Homo sapiens: one gene and its partners. The protein of the gene in region 1 purifies or fractionates together with the protein of each later gene. This does not show direct contact. Each region holds a gene or a part of one and is shown on either strand. Other genes may lie near its edges.

Region 1 (3,931 bases):
AGCAAGCGAGGAGCATGCCTGTGTGCGTGTGTGTGTGTGTGTGTGTGTGTGTGTGTGTGTGCAGGCAAGGGTGGGGGAGAGGGGTGATTCTTAAAGGGCCACCGCACAATTAGCCCCCTCAGCAAGGCCCCTAATGATACGTCTAATTAGCAGCCCCCTAATTAGCAACAACTTAGGCATAATTACAAACCCACCAGGATCCAAAGCAAAGGCTCATGCTCCCTTCTCCCTCCGCCTCCCTGGCTTTCAGGAGAAACAGGGGCCAGCCGGGAGTCAGGAATTCTTCTAAAGCATCAAACCAAACCCCGCTCTCTCTGGGAGGAAGCCTCGGCCTGGGAAGTCCTCCCTCAGGTTTAACCACCTGTCCTTCCTGCTGCAGTCCTCAAGAGAGACCACAGCCAGGTGATGCGGGTTCTCATGTCCACCCTCCTAGCCCAGGGGCTGGGTCAAGCACAGCCTAGTGCAATCCCTTTTTCCTGCAAAACCTGGTTTCTCGCTGGGGCCTTGCGAGAGGAGCAGTCAGGGAGAGAAAGCACTAGATAAATATTTGTGAAATGAATGACCAAGAGGTCTGAGCCCTGTCACCAGGGACCGTGGGCTCCCTCTGCTCCTGGCTCCTGCCTCTCCCTCTCCATCCACCAGCAGCCCTGAAACCCAATCTGCTTTTAGAATCCAGGGGCAAAAGGATCAGGTGGAGCCCAGGGTGGGAGCGGGGAGGGCAGATGGCAGGTACCGTCTCCCAGGGCCATCTCTCCCTCCCTTCGTGGGCGTGCGGCCAGCTGGGTCGGCAGTGAGCACCCCTGTTCTGCCTCACGTGCCTCTTAGGTCCTTGATCAGAAGAACAGGACTGCATGCCTGGGGGTGGGTGCAGTCTGGCGTGCCAGGTAAGACCCGTCCTTCATATCCCTCACGCTACCACCCCACAGTGGGGCGGCAAGGGAGGGTGCTTTTCTGACTGTGCCTGTGTTGGGGGGCTGGCCCTTGCAGGACCGAGCTGGGGACTCAGACTTCTAAACATGCACATTTACTGCCCCAGCATGAGCGCAGGCGCTCCCATCACCTCAAAATGGTCCAGTGTGGGGATCACACCACAGAGCTTGGGTGCTCGAGGCTGTGATACACTGATAATACGTAAACTGAGGCCCAGAGGAGGAACAGGGCTCTTAACCTAGTGCTCTTTAAAGCCATCTGAAGCCCCCTCCGTGGGCACTGTCACACAGGGCTGGGACCTCACCTGCAGCCAGGGAGACATCATACACACACACACACACACACACACACACACACACACACACCAGGGCTACAGGCACAGCCTCGTACCTTTTCGCCATCACTCACTCTCTTGCCCACCTTCTCCAGGGCCCCCTTCTCTCAAGGAAGGCAGACAGTGTGTTGGCCAGGGCCCTCTCAGCACCCCCCACTGAGACAGTGTGAGGCTGGCACACCAGGAAAGGGATGGAAGTGAGACTGCAGGAAGGACTGGCCCGGTCTAACTCAGTACCTAGTGCTTGCCCAGAGCAGGAAAGGCGCTCAGTAATTATCAACAAGAATGAATGAATCAAGAGCTGGACAAACAGCAAGAGGTATGGAAGTGAGACGGCAGGAAGGACTGGTCCAGTTACACGAGGAAGACTGGGGAGGTTAGATTGAAGGGAGGTCTGGTCTCATCTCTACTACAGAGGCTACCGGTTAAACTGCAAGAAGGACCGGCCTCAGAACGCCAGAAACAAGGCAGGGGGAGGTGGGCTCGGTCCTCAGGGGAGAGCTGGGGTGGGTGCCGGCTGGGAGGAGTGGAGAGAGCAGGGGAGCTCTGCTGAAGTGGGGAGAGGAGTTTAGAGGACTCCAGGCCTGGGGGAGCCCACTCTGCGGGTGGGGGGGTCTAATTCCTCCAGGTCCCCCCTGCCAGGGGCGGAGACAAAGGTGTGTGGGAGGAGGGTGCACTGGCTCCCAGGGAGAGCCAGAGAAGAGGAAAGAGAGAGAGAAACAGAGACTGAGATATCCAGAGACAGAGATGGAGACGAGGGGGAGATGGGGAGGGAGGGAGAGAGAGAGAGAGAGAGAGAGACATGCGGACATGGGAAGAGACAGAGACACAGAGAAAGCAGAGACAGAGAGAGACACAGGAAAGCTGAGACAAGGGAGAGAGGCAGAGACACAGAGACACAGAGAAACAGAGATGGCGCAAGAGGAAAGGAGAGAGAAACCCAGGACTTAGAGACAGAGCCCCAGAGAGACTCCGAACAGACCCCGGCACAGAGACACAGAGAGAGGGAGACAGGAGTGAGAGACTGAGAGACAGGGACTCCCAGAGGCGGCCAGACTCTGCTAGACAGAGACCCCTGAGACATGTGGAGAGACAGAAAGATGAGACCCAGACACAGGAAGGCGGGGGCAGAGGTAGAGAGCGCGAGGGGGGGTGCCCCAGACGGGGTGGGGGCGGGGTGTCCTCGCCCCCCAGTACCCAGGCGGTCCCCCTCCCCAGCCGCCCGAGAACCAGGAGGGACTGAAGGTGTTGGGGCGGCTGGTGGCACTCCCACCCCACAGAAGGTACGCGTGCTGGGCCAGGCAGCCCCCCACCTCCATAAACCAGCCCAGGGAAGCCAGCTCCAGGCTTCCCGAACCGCCCCCACTCCGCACCTGGGGTAACCCCGTCCTTTTCCCACGCCCCCACCTCCCCACCAATGGGGTCTCTTACCTGCGGCTACAGCCTGGAGCAGGTCCCCCCAGCGCTGGGCTGGCAGTGGTGGGCGACTCCGCCCGAAAGAGAGAGAGAGATTGAGAGAGAGAAAAGCCTGAGACTGAGAGGGAGAGCCGGGGAGGAGGGGAGGGAGAGGGGATAGAGGGAGGAGAAGAGGAGAGGGGAGGGACACGGGGGAGGGGGAGGCGGCGAGGGAGCGAGGGAGGGGGAGGAGCCGGAGAGAGGGGGAGGAGGCGGAGGCGGGCAGAGGGAAGGCGGTGCGGGAGGCGGGGGGAGGCCCGGGGAGGGGCCTGGGGGAGCAGGGAGCCCGAGCCTCCTCCCCAGCCTCCGGGTTCAGCACCAGAGGCAGGGGACAGCACCGGAGGGCGCTCCTGTGTGTTTCAGAAGCAGCCCCCGCCCCCCAACACACACACACACACACGCACACACACACACGCACGCAGTCTCCCAGCCATACAAGGGCCAACAGCTACAAATAGTTACAGACTTACAGAACTAGGGGGAGGGCAAGAATGTTTAGCTGGAGTCAGATCCAAATTCACATACTGTGCCTGCACAGCCTCACAAAGGAGGCCAGAAACAACCACAAAGACACCCATTAATAAGAATAACAACAGCTGCCATACATACAGGCAGCCCTGACCACGTGCCTGGCATCGGCAGCACATTATTATTATTTGAGACAGGGTCTCACTCTGTCACCCAGGCTGGAGTGCAGTGGCACGATCTTGGCTTACTGCAGCCTCAACCTCCTGGGCTCAAGCAATCCTCCTGCCTCAGCCTCCTGAGTAGCTGGGACTACAGGTGCCCGCCACCACCACGCCAGGCTTTTTCCCTCCATTTTTTTTTTTTAGGAGATGGGATCTCACCATGTTACCCAGGCTGGTCTCCAACTCCTGGGCTCAAGCGATCCTTCTGCCTTGGCCTCCCGAGTAGCTGGGACTACAGGTGCCCACCACCACCACGCCAGGCTTTTTTTCTCTTCATTTTTTTTAAGAGACGGGGTCTCACTATTTTACCTAGGCTAGTCTCCAACTCCCGGGCTTAAGCAATCCTTCTGCCTCGGCCTCCCAAAGCGCTGAGATTACAGGTGAGAGCCACCGCACAGGTGAGAGCCACCGCACCTGGCATGTTCTAATGTTTTTTATAAATTTAGGTAAATGCTATTATGAGCTTCACTTACAGACAGGGAAACCAAGGCATGAGGTGGTAAATATGGCTCCAGATTCTACA
Region 2 (3,980 bases), on another chromosome or scaffold:
TACATCACCTCCCTTTGGAGTTTAGGCAGAGCTGACCAGCGTGATGAAACAGAGATCACAGACAGACAGCACAGCCTCAGCAGCAACGACACCAAACTCCAGCCTGACTCGGGTACAGCACCACATGACAAATAGCACACCCTGCAGGAAATCAAAATATTTCACCCCCAAATACATTTATTTCCCTGACATATTTGAAATGGTCCTGCAAAGCTGTCTTTTGTGAGGGAAATTTGCATCTGTAGAGAATCTCCCTCCCTTTCTAGGTCTTTCCTGGATCTAGGAGACATTTAACGAGTCTGACAGCATTCAGGTCTGAAAAGAGACATTTACCCTCTATTCTCCCCAAGGCTGCTGCCTGTGAGGCTTCATCTACTTAACCTTGGCCTCCACAGCCCCTTTAGCTTAACTCAAGCATTTCTCTTTGCTGACTTCAAGTCTTTAGACAAAGCTTAACTCTTTCAATCAATTGCCAGTCAGAATCCACCTATGATCTGTAAACCTACCCCTTCCTATACCTTACATGTACTGATTTATGTCTCTCTGCCTATAACTTCTGTCTCCCTAAAATGTATAAAATCAAATTAACGTGACTGCCTAGAGCACACTTTCTTAGGACCTCTTGACACTGTTCCCCTGGCCATGGCCACTACACTTATTGGCTCAGAACAAACCTCTTTCAGTATTTTATAGTTTGGCTTTTTAGCCAACAGGACCCTCTGCCTGGGCTCCCTGAAGCCCTCTCCCTGCTGCCTGGTCAGGTCACCGCTGTCTTTCACTTTCAGCCATATCCTCCTCCAGTCTCAGTCTCAGGCACAAGCCTGTTCTTCCTGTCGTGACTGGGAAGACAGTCAGCCTCACTAAAGGAGGCTTACTGAGTTGAGTTCATCACACCACTGGGTATGGACGTTACTGTGTGGCTCTCAGGAGGGGCCTTCCTTCTGAGCTCCAGGGACAGTTCTCAAGGCTGCCTATGTGCTGCTTCGGTTACAGAATTTGCAATATTTGAATCTGGTACGATCTTTAGACTTCAGCGACTCAACTGAAAAAAAAAAATCAAAACCAAAACCCACAAAAAAAGTGACCAAGTCCTGCCAGGGCCACCTGCATTTTAATGAACATATCTGTTTCTGCCACTGAATAACACACAAGAACTGAAGGGTTCCCTACGTGATTGAATTACTTGTTTGTTTTCCTAAAAGCAGTGTCTAAAAACCCCACTGAACAGTTTTTCTGTCCATCTCTTCCAGTCTCTGACCTCAGTTCTGAGTCAGGTCAACAGGGACATAAGAAAACATGAGATCAAAGAGGAGGAATCCATTAGAATCAAAAGGCCCCAGCTCTCTAAGAGGAGAATGCATTTTAAAGATAACCATTTACAGTAACATACAAAAGCCCTACTTAGACTTGAAAAAAAGTTTCTTTACAAATCTGTTTGCGATGAGAAAAATACAGCAGGATTGGGTGTAAGGCATAAAAACAAAGGTGCAGGAAGAAAGAGTAGCAATTTGTTACAGATCTTGCCCACTGAAACATGTAATTTGAGGTTAGCACAACACAGGAAGTCCTGCCAAACCTCACTGGGTCGGGAGGACCTCCTACTTCAGTGATTTAAATACCATTTTAAGGGAAGGGTGTTGTGAATGCCCCCTCCCACGCCAACTCTAACCTGTAGAGCAGGCGAGTAACTTCGTGACTGGTTAACAACGTGCGACCAGATGAAAGCACTAAACAATAAAGTGCGGAACACTACCAGCAGTTTGGTGAAAGATTTCTCAAAGGCTGTGCATCTGTGATCAAGGAGCCCACCAATGAAATTCTTTGTAGAGTTAAAAAAATTGCTTTATAGGTTGTTTTGGGGTATTATAGAGAAGTCTCCAGAGTATTTGGACTTCTAAGTTGTGGGTTCACTTTGAGCACCCACTATATGGCCAGCGATCCGAACCAGAAAGTTAATGATGAAGGTTCAAAGGGAATGGGGTGGCTACGAGTGTGGAATAGGAATGAGGGATCCTCAGAGAACAGGAATTCTGGGCACTGGGGATGGGGTGTGTGGACGCTAGGAAACAGGTAGGGTAGGAGGCCTGGAAGGTCAATGAAGTTCTTGGGGCTCAAAACATAGGTATTTTGAGAGCTGGGATACGGGAGGGCTTCCCTATCCCCAAGCGTGCGGTGAGGGCTGCGGGAGAATGGTTTCATTTTGACTTCAGACAGCCCAACTCGTCAGGATCTAACGGGGATTAACTGGGAGAGACATGGGGAGCAGCTGGCTTAGTCTCCCGCCCCTGGAAAGGCCAGGGTTGGTCCGAGTCGGGTGCCTCTGTGGGGCAGGGACTGGCTCTGCGGTAAGGAAAGAAATACGGGGGAGGGGCCCCGGGACCCGCCTTCTGGGGCGGTCGCAAGGGGTCCCGGAAGGCCGCGGTCCCGGGGGTCGGGGGGTCCCCGCGCGGGGGCGCGCCTCACCTCGCACATCCCCAGCCAGGGCCCGCCAAGTGGGCGCGTAGCCGATGCAGTGGCCACACCACGACGAGTAGAACTGCACGAGCCACGCGGCCGAGCTGTTGGCGGTGGCCCCGCGCACGCTGCCGCTGTCCAGCACCCACACGGCGTCCTCGCCCGCGCGGTACAGCCGCGCCGCACCGCCCGCGCCCGGCCCCACCGCCGCCGCCGCTAGCAGCACTAGCAGCCGCGGCAGCCGTGCGGCCCGCGGCGGGGGCGAGCGCCGGGCTCTCAGCGCAGGTCCCGCTCCGATTCCCGGGCTGCGCGCCACCGCCGCCCCGGCCGCCGCCATGTTGGAAGTGCCGCCGGCGCGCTGAACTTTCACCCTGGCAACCACCGTCACGTGCGCCGGCGCGCCCGGCCCCGCCCCCGCGCGCCCAGTTCTGTTCCGCCCCGCCCCCTCACGTCTGACCCCGCCCTCTCTCCCCGCCCCCGCCCCCGCCCATGCGTGGCAGCCCCGCCCCCAAGAGTCTGATGACGCCATCTCCCCGCCCAGGCGCGGCAGGCTCCGCCCAGGCCCCGCCCCACCCCGCCGCGCGTTCCCCAAACCCCTTCCCTGAACAGGGCCAGGTGGCCACATTTAGCAAATGGAAGTGCACGACGCCAGGTTCAACGTGAATTTCAGACAAACAGTGAGTCGGTTTTTCAGCCTAGGTCTGTGCCATGCCTGAAATACAAATTTAACAAGACATTCTTAGACGTAAAAAACTATTCCGGGGTTCTTTTACTTGGCAACCCCACCTGGGGCTTCAGAGGGTCTGCAAGCCAGCCTCGACTTTTTAATATGATATTGGAACGCTTAGAAAATGCAGCAAAACATCCACTCAAAGTCAGATGTGTTGTGTGCTACCTTTTAGGATGTTCCAGTCGAATGCAGCTTCACGGTTTGGAAATGAAATCATATGACTTTTTTGCTTCATTGAACAGGATACCTGATTTTTTTTTTTGTTCCTATTCCTAATTTTTACACATGTCAAGATTTTCTCTGAACTGTGTGACCAAAACAAAACAAGGGAGTGGGCGAGCCTGGGCAACATAGCGAGAGCCCATCTCTTAAAAAAAAGAAAAAAGCCGGGCATGGTGGTGCACACCTGTAGTCCCAGCTACTTGAGGGGCTAAGGTGGAGGATGGCTTGAGCCTGGGAGCTTGAGGCTGCAGTGAGCCGTGACTCTGCCACTGCACTCCAGCCTGGATGACAGAGCGAGACCTTGTCTCAAAATAAATAGATAACTGTATTGTGGGGTTCTGTGTAAGATTTTGTTTAAAAGGTTTTGCTGCTAACAATGGTTAACCCCAGATGAGAGGATTCTCCCCAGAGGGCCCCTGGCCAAGGCGTCTGCTCCCTTTTCCTCACGTCCTGCGTCTCCCTGTTCATGTTTCCTTCCATCACCCACGTTTCCTGGCTTCTGCTCTGTGCCAAGCCCTGGAGACAAATCAAGAACAAAACCGAGCCCCCAGTGTCCCTGGCCTGCATTTGGGCA
Region 3 (3,500 bases), 2.7 Mb from region 1:
TTTTTTTTTTTTTTTTTTTTTTTTTGAGACGGAGTCTCGCTTGTTGCCCAGGCTGGAGTGCAATGGCGTGATCTCAGCTCACTGCAACCTCGGCATCCAGGGTTCAAGTGATTCTCCTGCCTCAGCCTCCCAAGTAGCTGGGATTACAGGCGTCTGCCACCACGCCCAGCTAATTTTTGTATTTTTAGTAGAGACAGGGTTTCACCATGTTGGCCAGGCTGGTCTCGAACTCCTGACCTCAGGTGATCTGCCTGCCTCGGCCTCCCAAAGTGCTGGGATTATAGGCATGAGCTACCACACCCGGCCCCGGCTAATTATTTTCTTTTTTTTTTTTTTTTGAGATGGAGTCTCACTGTGTCGCCCAGGCTGGAGTGCAGTGGCACGATCTCGGCTCACTGCAAGCTCCGCCTCCTGGGTTCACGCCATTCTCCTGCCTCAGCCTCCTGAGTAGCTGGGACTACAGGCGCCTGCCACCATACCCGGCTATTGTTTTCTATTTTTAGTAGAGACAGCGTTTCACTGTGTTATCCAGGTTGGTCTCGATCCCCTGACCTGGTGATCTGCCCGCCTCGGCCTCCCAAAGTGCTGGGATTACAGGTGTGAGCCACCGCGCCTGGCCAATTATTTTCAATTTTTGTAGAAATTAGGGTCTCACTATGTTGTCCAGGCAGGTCTTGAACTCCTGACCTCAGGTGATCCACCCTCTTCAGCCTCCCAAAGTGCTGGGATTGCAGGCGTGAGCCACCACTCCTGGCCAGGCTCAGTTCTGGGCACTGACAATGGAGCAACAGACAAGCTGGAAGAAGACGCCTGCCTCCAAAAGTTTACTTTCTAGCCCCGGGCTGTCCACTGCAGAAGCCACCACCACCTGTGCACTACCGGGTACTTGCAATGTGGCATGTGTCACTGAGGAAACACATTTTCAATTTCATTCATTTAAATTCAATCTATTTTATTTTATTTTGAGATGAGGTTTCACTCCGTTGCTCAGGCTGGAGTGCAGTGGTACAACCACGGCTCACCACATCCTTGACTTCCCAGCCTCAGGTGATTCATGTCTGAAATTTATTAATTAAAAAATAAATGTATTAACAGGCATGCCACCATGCCTACTAATTTTTAAATTTGTTTTGTAGAGACAGGGTCTTCTATGTTGCCCAGACTGGTCTCAAACTCCTGGGCTCAAGCGATCCTCCTGCCTTGGCTCCCCAAAGTACTGGGATTACAGGTGTGAGCCACCGAGCCCCATCTTAAAATTTAAATATAAATATCCCCATCTGGAGTTCTAAGTGTAAGATACACACCAGATTTCCAAGACTTAGTACAACAAAAAGATAGTTTGCTGAGATTTTAAATATTTGATGACATGCTGAAATGATAATATTTTCAATCTACTGGGTTAAATAAAATATATCATTAAATTAATGTTACCCGTTCCTTTTTTACTTTTATCATTAAATGTGGCTACTAGAAAATGTTACATTACACATCTGGCCTGTATTATATTGCTATTTGACAGAGCTGCTGTAATCCCAGGAGACAGATAAAAAGATTAAAAATGTAAATTAGATAGTATGGTTTTTGTTTTTTAAAAATTCTCTCTCTCTTTTTTATTTTTTTACAGAAACCAAATATGGTATGTTTGGTGGGTTTGTTGGGTTTTTTTGTTTGTTTGTTTGTTTGTTTGTTTGTTTGTTTTTGTTTTTTGAGACAGAGTCTTGCTCTGTCACCCAGGCTGGAGTGCAGTGGCTTGATCTTGGCTCACTGCAACCTCTGCCTCCCGGTTTCAAGAGATTCTCCTGCCTCAGCCTCCCAAGTAGCTGGGATTACAGGCGCATGCCTCTATGCCTGGCTAATTTTTGTATTTTTAGTAGAGATGGGGTTTCACCATGTTGGCCAGGCTGGTCTCAAACTCCTAACCTCAGGTGATCCGCCCGCCTGGGCCTCCCAAAGTGCTGGGATTACAGGCACGAGCCACCATGCCCGGCCAGATAGTACATTAAATGGTGATAAATACCAAGGGGAGGAATAAACCAGGGGACAGGAAATGTTAGGGTTGAGGATGTTGAAGTTTTCATTAGGGTGGCCAGGGAGGGCCTCTCTGGTGTGGCATTTAAATGAAGACCCAAGGGAGATGACAGGAGCGAGGAAGGGGGTTGTTGGGAGAAAAATCATTCCAGACAGCAGTGCAAAGGTCCTGGGGCCACAATGCATCTGTGTGGCTGTGTCACTGTGAGGTAGGCAGCATGGCTAGAGCCAAATGATCGAGGGGCAGAGGGTGGGAGGGGATGTAAGAGAGGGGACAAAAGGTACAACCTTGCTTTTACTCTAAGATATGAGCCCAGGGTGGGAATTGACCTGATTTTTGTCATTCAGGTTCCCTGACCACCTCTGGTCACGCCTATCTCATGCCTGCAGAATAGACTCGAATCTCACTGCTTCAGTGAACAATTCCTTCCTTCTCTGGAACCTGACTCCTTCTCCATAAAATGGGGAGACTGGACCCATTCATTCAACTCTCTGAGGACTTTCAAGTACGAGACTCCGCCCCGAGTGGGCCTGAGGACCCAGAGAAGAGTAGGCTGGGAGCCCTGCCTGGAGGAGCTCCTGGCCTAGGGGTGGATCCAGCTCCAGCTATCTCGGAGGCAACCAGGTGCTGGGGGAACTAGAATGTGTTAGGCCCCTCCCACCATCCAGCGGGCCATGGGCAGTAGTGGCAATTCCAACGCGGTCCAAGCACCAGGCAGGAAAAATATTCTCCCTATCCTGCTGCGTGGCCCCCTCCTGCTAAAGAAGTCTGCCCCTAGTCTCTCTCTCTCTCTCTCTCTCTCTCTCTCTCTCTCTCTCTCTGTCTCTCTCTCTCTTTCTCTCTCTCTCTCTCTCTTTTTTCTTAGAGATAGGTCTCGCTCTATTGCCCAGGCTGGAGTTGGAGTGCAGTGGCACAATCACAGCTCACTGCAGCCTCAACTCCTGTGTTCAAGTGATCCTCTCACTTCAGCCTCCTCAGTAGCTGGGACCACAGGTGCGCACCATCAGGCCCAGCCTTTTTTTTTTTTTTTTTTTTTTTTTCTGGTAGAAACAGGGTCTCCCTATGTTACCCAGGCTGATCTCAAACTCCTGGGCTCAAGTGATCCTCCTGCTTTGGCCTCCACAGTGCTGGGATTACAGACATGAGCCACTACGCCCGGCCCCTACTCTCATCCACTGCCTCAAATGTCCCCATCACTGCCCCACCACATCAGTCACAGAAACAGTGGGAGATTTCTGTCTCCCCAACAGCAGGACTTCACCTCTGCCCGATAGACCTATATGCAACTGCCGTCCCCACCTCGCTCCCACATACCCCTGGAGAAGTCCTTCTAAACGCCCAGCTGCCCTGGAGGCCCCCCTGGATCTGGTCCCAACAGACTCCTGCCTTTCCCTCAAGCCTCTCCCACGGGAATCCCAGCTCCGCTGAGAGGACCCACTTCCTCCCAGACCCTCTCCTCCCATCCCCAAGC
Region 4 (3,500 bases), on another chromosome or scaffold:
CTCCAACCTCATGTACCTGACATCCTAGTGGAAGAGACCAGTATGTACAAATAAAATGATGAAATAGTTGATAAGATTTTGGCTAACAAGTGTTTATGGAGGAAAAAAAGGGTTAAGAGTCAGAGAGTAGGCCAGGCGCAGTGGCTCACGCCTGTAATCCCAGCACTTTGGGAGGCCGAGGCAGGCGAATCACGAGGTCAGGAGTTCGAGACCAGCCTGGCCAACATGGTGAAACCGTCTCTACTTAAAATACAAAAAAAATTAGCTGGGCGTGGTGGCGGGCGCATGTAATCCCAGCTACTCAAGAGGCTGAGGCAGGAGAATCTCTTGAACCCGGGAGGCGGAGATTGCAATGAGCCGAGATCGTGCCACCGCAATCCAGCCTGGGTGACAGTGTGAGACTCCGTCTCAGAAAAAAAAAAAGAGTCAGGGAGGCCTCTTTGATGTGGTGACATCTGAGACTGGTATAAATTTGAAATTTGCTTCTTCAATTTCTCATTAGGGTTCTGAATATAGAAGTTAGTTATTTGCATACAGGTTGGGGCATCCCCAGATTTATTGTATCTATCTATGTAAGTGTTTTGGAGAAATCTGAGTTACTGTGTTGATTATACTTAATTGGTTACCTTTCAATAGATTGTTTACCTGCTTATATACTTCTTTGCATGTCTAGATTGCTCAGGAAATTATATTCTTTTCTAATTAAGAATTTTCTAGTCTATTCTGTTTCAACTCTTCCTAAAAGTCTTTCTAAAATAAATTTACACCCATTTCTGCCCCTTTGTAAGTCAGACTCTCTTTGATATGTTAGGATTTTGCAGTGCTGTGGGCTTTTCTTAAGTTCTCATTGAAGTGTTTAGATTTGGGTGGGAGGTTGGGCTTCATGTATACTCTATATTGGAAATTGCTGTTCGGACTAAATAACTTTTCTTGTTAATGAGATCTTTCTCATAAAGAAATTAGGAAAAAAATAATGGTTGGTGTGTTTCAGTTAAGGATTTAACACGTTAGGGCCTATTAGAGCTTTAAAATCCCTTTATAATAGTTGAAGTTTTTCATAATCTGGGAGAATGGGCTTTGGTGGGGCTGCTAATTCTCACTCACCATGGGAAGATCGTATGTATCCCAGACAGCAGAAGCTCCTCAGTGTACAGACGAAGCAGTCTCATAGTTGTCCCACTATGTGAATAAACTCATCTTTACACAGAAAGGAAATCACACCAACATCCAGACCACAAAGTACTGCTATTTTTAAGCATTTCCCAAACCGGGATTCTAGGAACATTGCTTGTACAGGATGCTAATAACGATGTACTGTGAAAAAATTGTTCTCTGATGGAAATTTAAAATCTTTCTTCACTACATTACATCTCAGAGTCCCTGAAATCTTGTTGTGATTCTCCTGAGGAGCTTTGCGGGGATAGCGTGTGGCGTGAATCCTAAACATAGTCAACCACAGAGCTCCTTCAGCAGCTCTCACAGCTTGTGTTCGAAGGTGTGCCATCTGGGAAAGGGGGACAGTTCGCTTCTGGGCAGCAAGGGCCCTGCCCTGTCACAGAGGGCGTGTGATGTTCTGGATGCCATAAGCTTTCAGTAAACAGTTGTCTGAGCGAAGATTTATAATGTGGCCACATGAAGAAAACAAACATTGGGTAGCATTATAATGCCTTTCATTCTCCAGTGCCTAATTATTGATTGGTCTCATAAAAATAAAACAGTTCATAGGACTCTACATAGCACCCGTGGGTCCCTTCCCCAGGTGGCACAGGAAGCCTGCAGAGGAAGTTTGTAGGTAAGGATCGTAAATCTCCTTAGGGAGCATTTTGAATTTAAACGAAAATGTCCAAAGTCATAGGCAGGGGCGCCTGTTCCTTTATGTGTCAGCCCTAAGTGGCTTCGCTAGCTCTATAGAACCAGTGTTGAAAACCACATGCAGTTTAGTGACTAAGCCCTTCCTTGCTTTTTCCTTCCCAGAAGTAGAAGTAGTTACTCTAACAAACCTAGATTCTGTAATCATTATGGATAAGTGGATGTCAGTTTATGGAAAGAGAGTCAAAGTCCTGTTTACTCTTTAGTGGATTTTTTTTTTTTTTTTTTTTTTTTGAGGCAGAGTTTCGCTCTTGTTGCCAAGGCTGGAGTGCAGTGGCACGATCTTGGCTCACCGCAACCTCCGCCTCCCGGGTTCAAGGGATTATTCTGCCTCAGCCTCTTGAGTAGCTGGGATTACAGGCATGCACCACCACGCCTGGCTAATTTTGTATTTTTAGTAGAGATGGGGTTTCTCCATGTTGGTCAGGCTGGTCTCGAACTCCTGACCTCAGGTGATCCGCCCCCCTGGGCCTCTGAAAGTGCTGGGATTACAGGCGTGAGCCACCGCGCCCAGCCTGTTCAGTGGAATTTAAACTTGTACATATAGAAGTGAGAATTGAATTCATTCAGAGATTCAGCTGCCTTATAGTTTCTAGTCCTTAAACTTCTAAGCTGTTCAATGTGTAACTAGATTGCATTTTAAGGATAACCTGCAAGATGTGTAATGCAGTTATGCACCACATAATGACATTTTGGTCAGCAATGGATTGCACAGATGACGGTGGTCCCCTAAGATTGTAATGGAGCTGAAAAATTCTTCTGTCTATTGATGTCACAGGTGTTGTAATGTTATAGTGCAAGGCACTACTCACATGTTTGTGCTGCTGCTGGTGTAAACAAACCTACTTCACTGCCAGTTGTCTACAAGTAAAAGCACATACAATTATGTACAATATGTAACTCTTGATAATAAATGATGTTGTTACTGGTTTATGTATTTATTATACTATACTTTTTTTTTTTTGAGACTCAGTCTTGCACTGTTGCCCAGGCTGGAGTGCAGTGGCGTGATCTCGGCTCACTGCAAGCTCCGCCTCCTGGGTTCATGCCATTCTCCTGCCTCAGCCTCCCGAGTAGCTGGGACTACAGCTGCCCGCCACCACGCCCGGCTAATTTTTTGTACTTTTAGTAGAGGTGGGGTTTCATCGTGTTAGCCAGGATGGTCTCGATCTCCTGACCTTGTGATCTGCCCGCCTCAGCCTCCCAAAGTGCTGGGATTATAGGCGTGAGCCACCACGCCCGGCCTATACTGTACTTTTTATCTTTATTTTAGCGTGTATGCCTACATGTTAAAAAAGTTAATAGTAAAACAGCCTCGGGCAGGTCCTTAAGGGGGTATTTCAGAAGGCATTGTTATCTTAGGAGAAGACAGCCCCATGTGTATTATTACCCCTGAAGACTTTCCAGTGGGACAAGACATGGAGATAGAAGACAGTGAAATTGATGCTCCTGACCCTGTGTAGGCCTAGGCTAATATGTTTGTATCTTAGTTTTTAACAAAAAGTTTAAAAAGTAAAAATAAAAAAAATTAAAATTTTAAAAATAGAGAAAAGCTTATAGAATAAGGTTATAAAGAAAATATTTTTGTACAGCTATACAAAGTATTGTGTTTTAAGCTAAGTGTTATTACA

What was found. Proteins that work in one complex are often made in the same cells at the same time.
Region 2: the proteins of SLC8A2 (region 1) and QSOX2 purify together in Homo sapiens (affinity purification with mass spectrometry; one large-scale study listed by BioGRID and IntAct). This does not show direct contact.
Region 3: the proteins of SLC8A2 (region 1) and MYH14 purify together in Homo sapiens (affinity purification with mass spectrometry; one large-scale study listed by BioGRID and IntAct). This does not show direct contact.
Region 4: the proteins of SLC8A2 (region 1) and MYO1B purify together in Homo sapiens (affinity purification with mass spectrometry; one large-scale study listed by BioGRID and IntAct). This does not show direct contact.

The regions. Positions count from the first base shown.
Region 1 is NC_000019.10:47,469,094-47,473,024, forward strand, and holds the start of SLC8A2 (sodium/calcium exchanger 2 precursor), read right to left. Parts: upstream 2,801-3,931; 5' UTR 2,696-2,800; intron 1-2,695. UniProt on the Homo sapiens protein: Mediates the electrogenic exchange of Ca(2+) against Na(+) ions across the cell membrane, and thereby contributes to the regulation of cytoplasmic Ca(2+) levels and Ca(2+)-dependent cellular processes.
Region 2 is NC_000009.12:136,243,013-136,246,992, forward strand, and holds the start of QSOX2 (sulfhydryl oxidase 2 precursor), read right to left. Parts: upstream 2,801-3,980; 5' UTR 2,792-2,800; coding exon 2,464-2,791; intron 1-2,463. UniProt on the Homo sapiens protein: Catalyzes the oxidation of sulfhydryl groups in peptide and protein thiols to disulfides with the reduction of oxygen to hydrogen peroxide. May contribute to disulfide bond formation in a variety of secreted proteins.
Region 3 is NC_000019.10:50,206,622-50,210,121, reverse strand, and holds part of MYH14 (myosin-14), read right to left. Parts: intron 1-3,500. UniProt on the Homo sapiens protein: Cellular myosin that appears to play a role in cytokinesis, cell shape, and specialized functions such as secretion and capping.
Region 4 is NC_000002.12:191,416,404-191,419,903, forward strand, and holds part of MYO1B (unconventional myosin-Ib), read left to right. Parts: intron 1-3,500. UniProt on the Homo sapiens protein: Motor protein that may participate in process critical to neuronal development and function such as cell migration, neurite outgrowth and vesicular transport.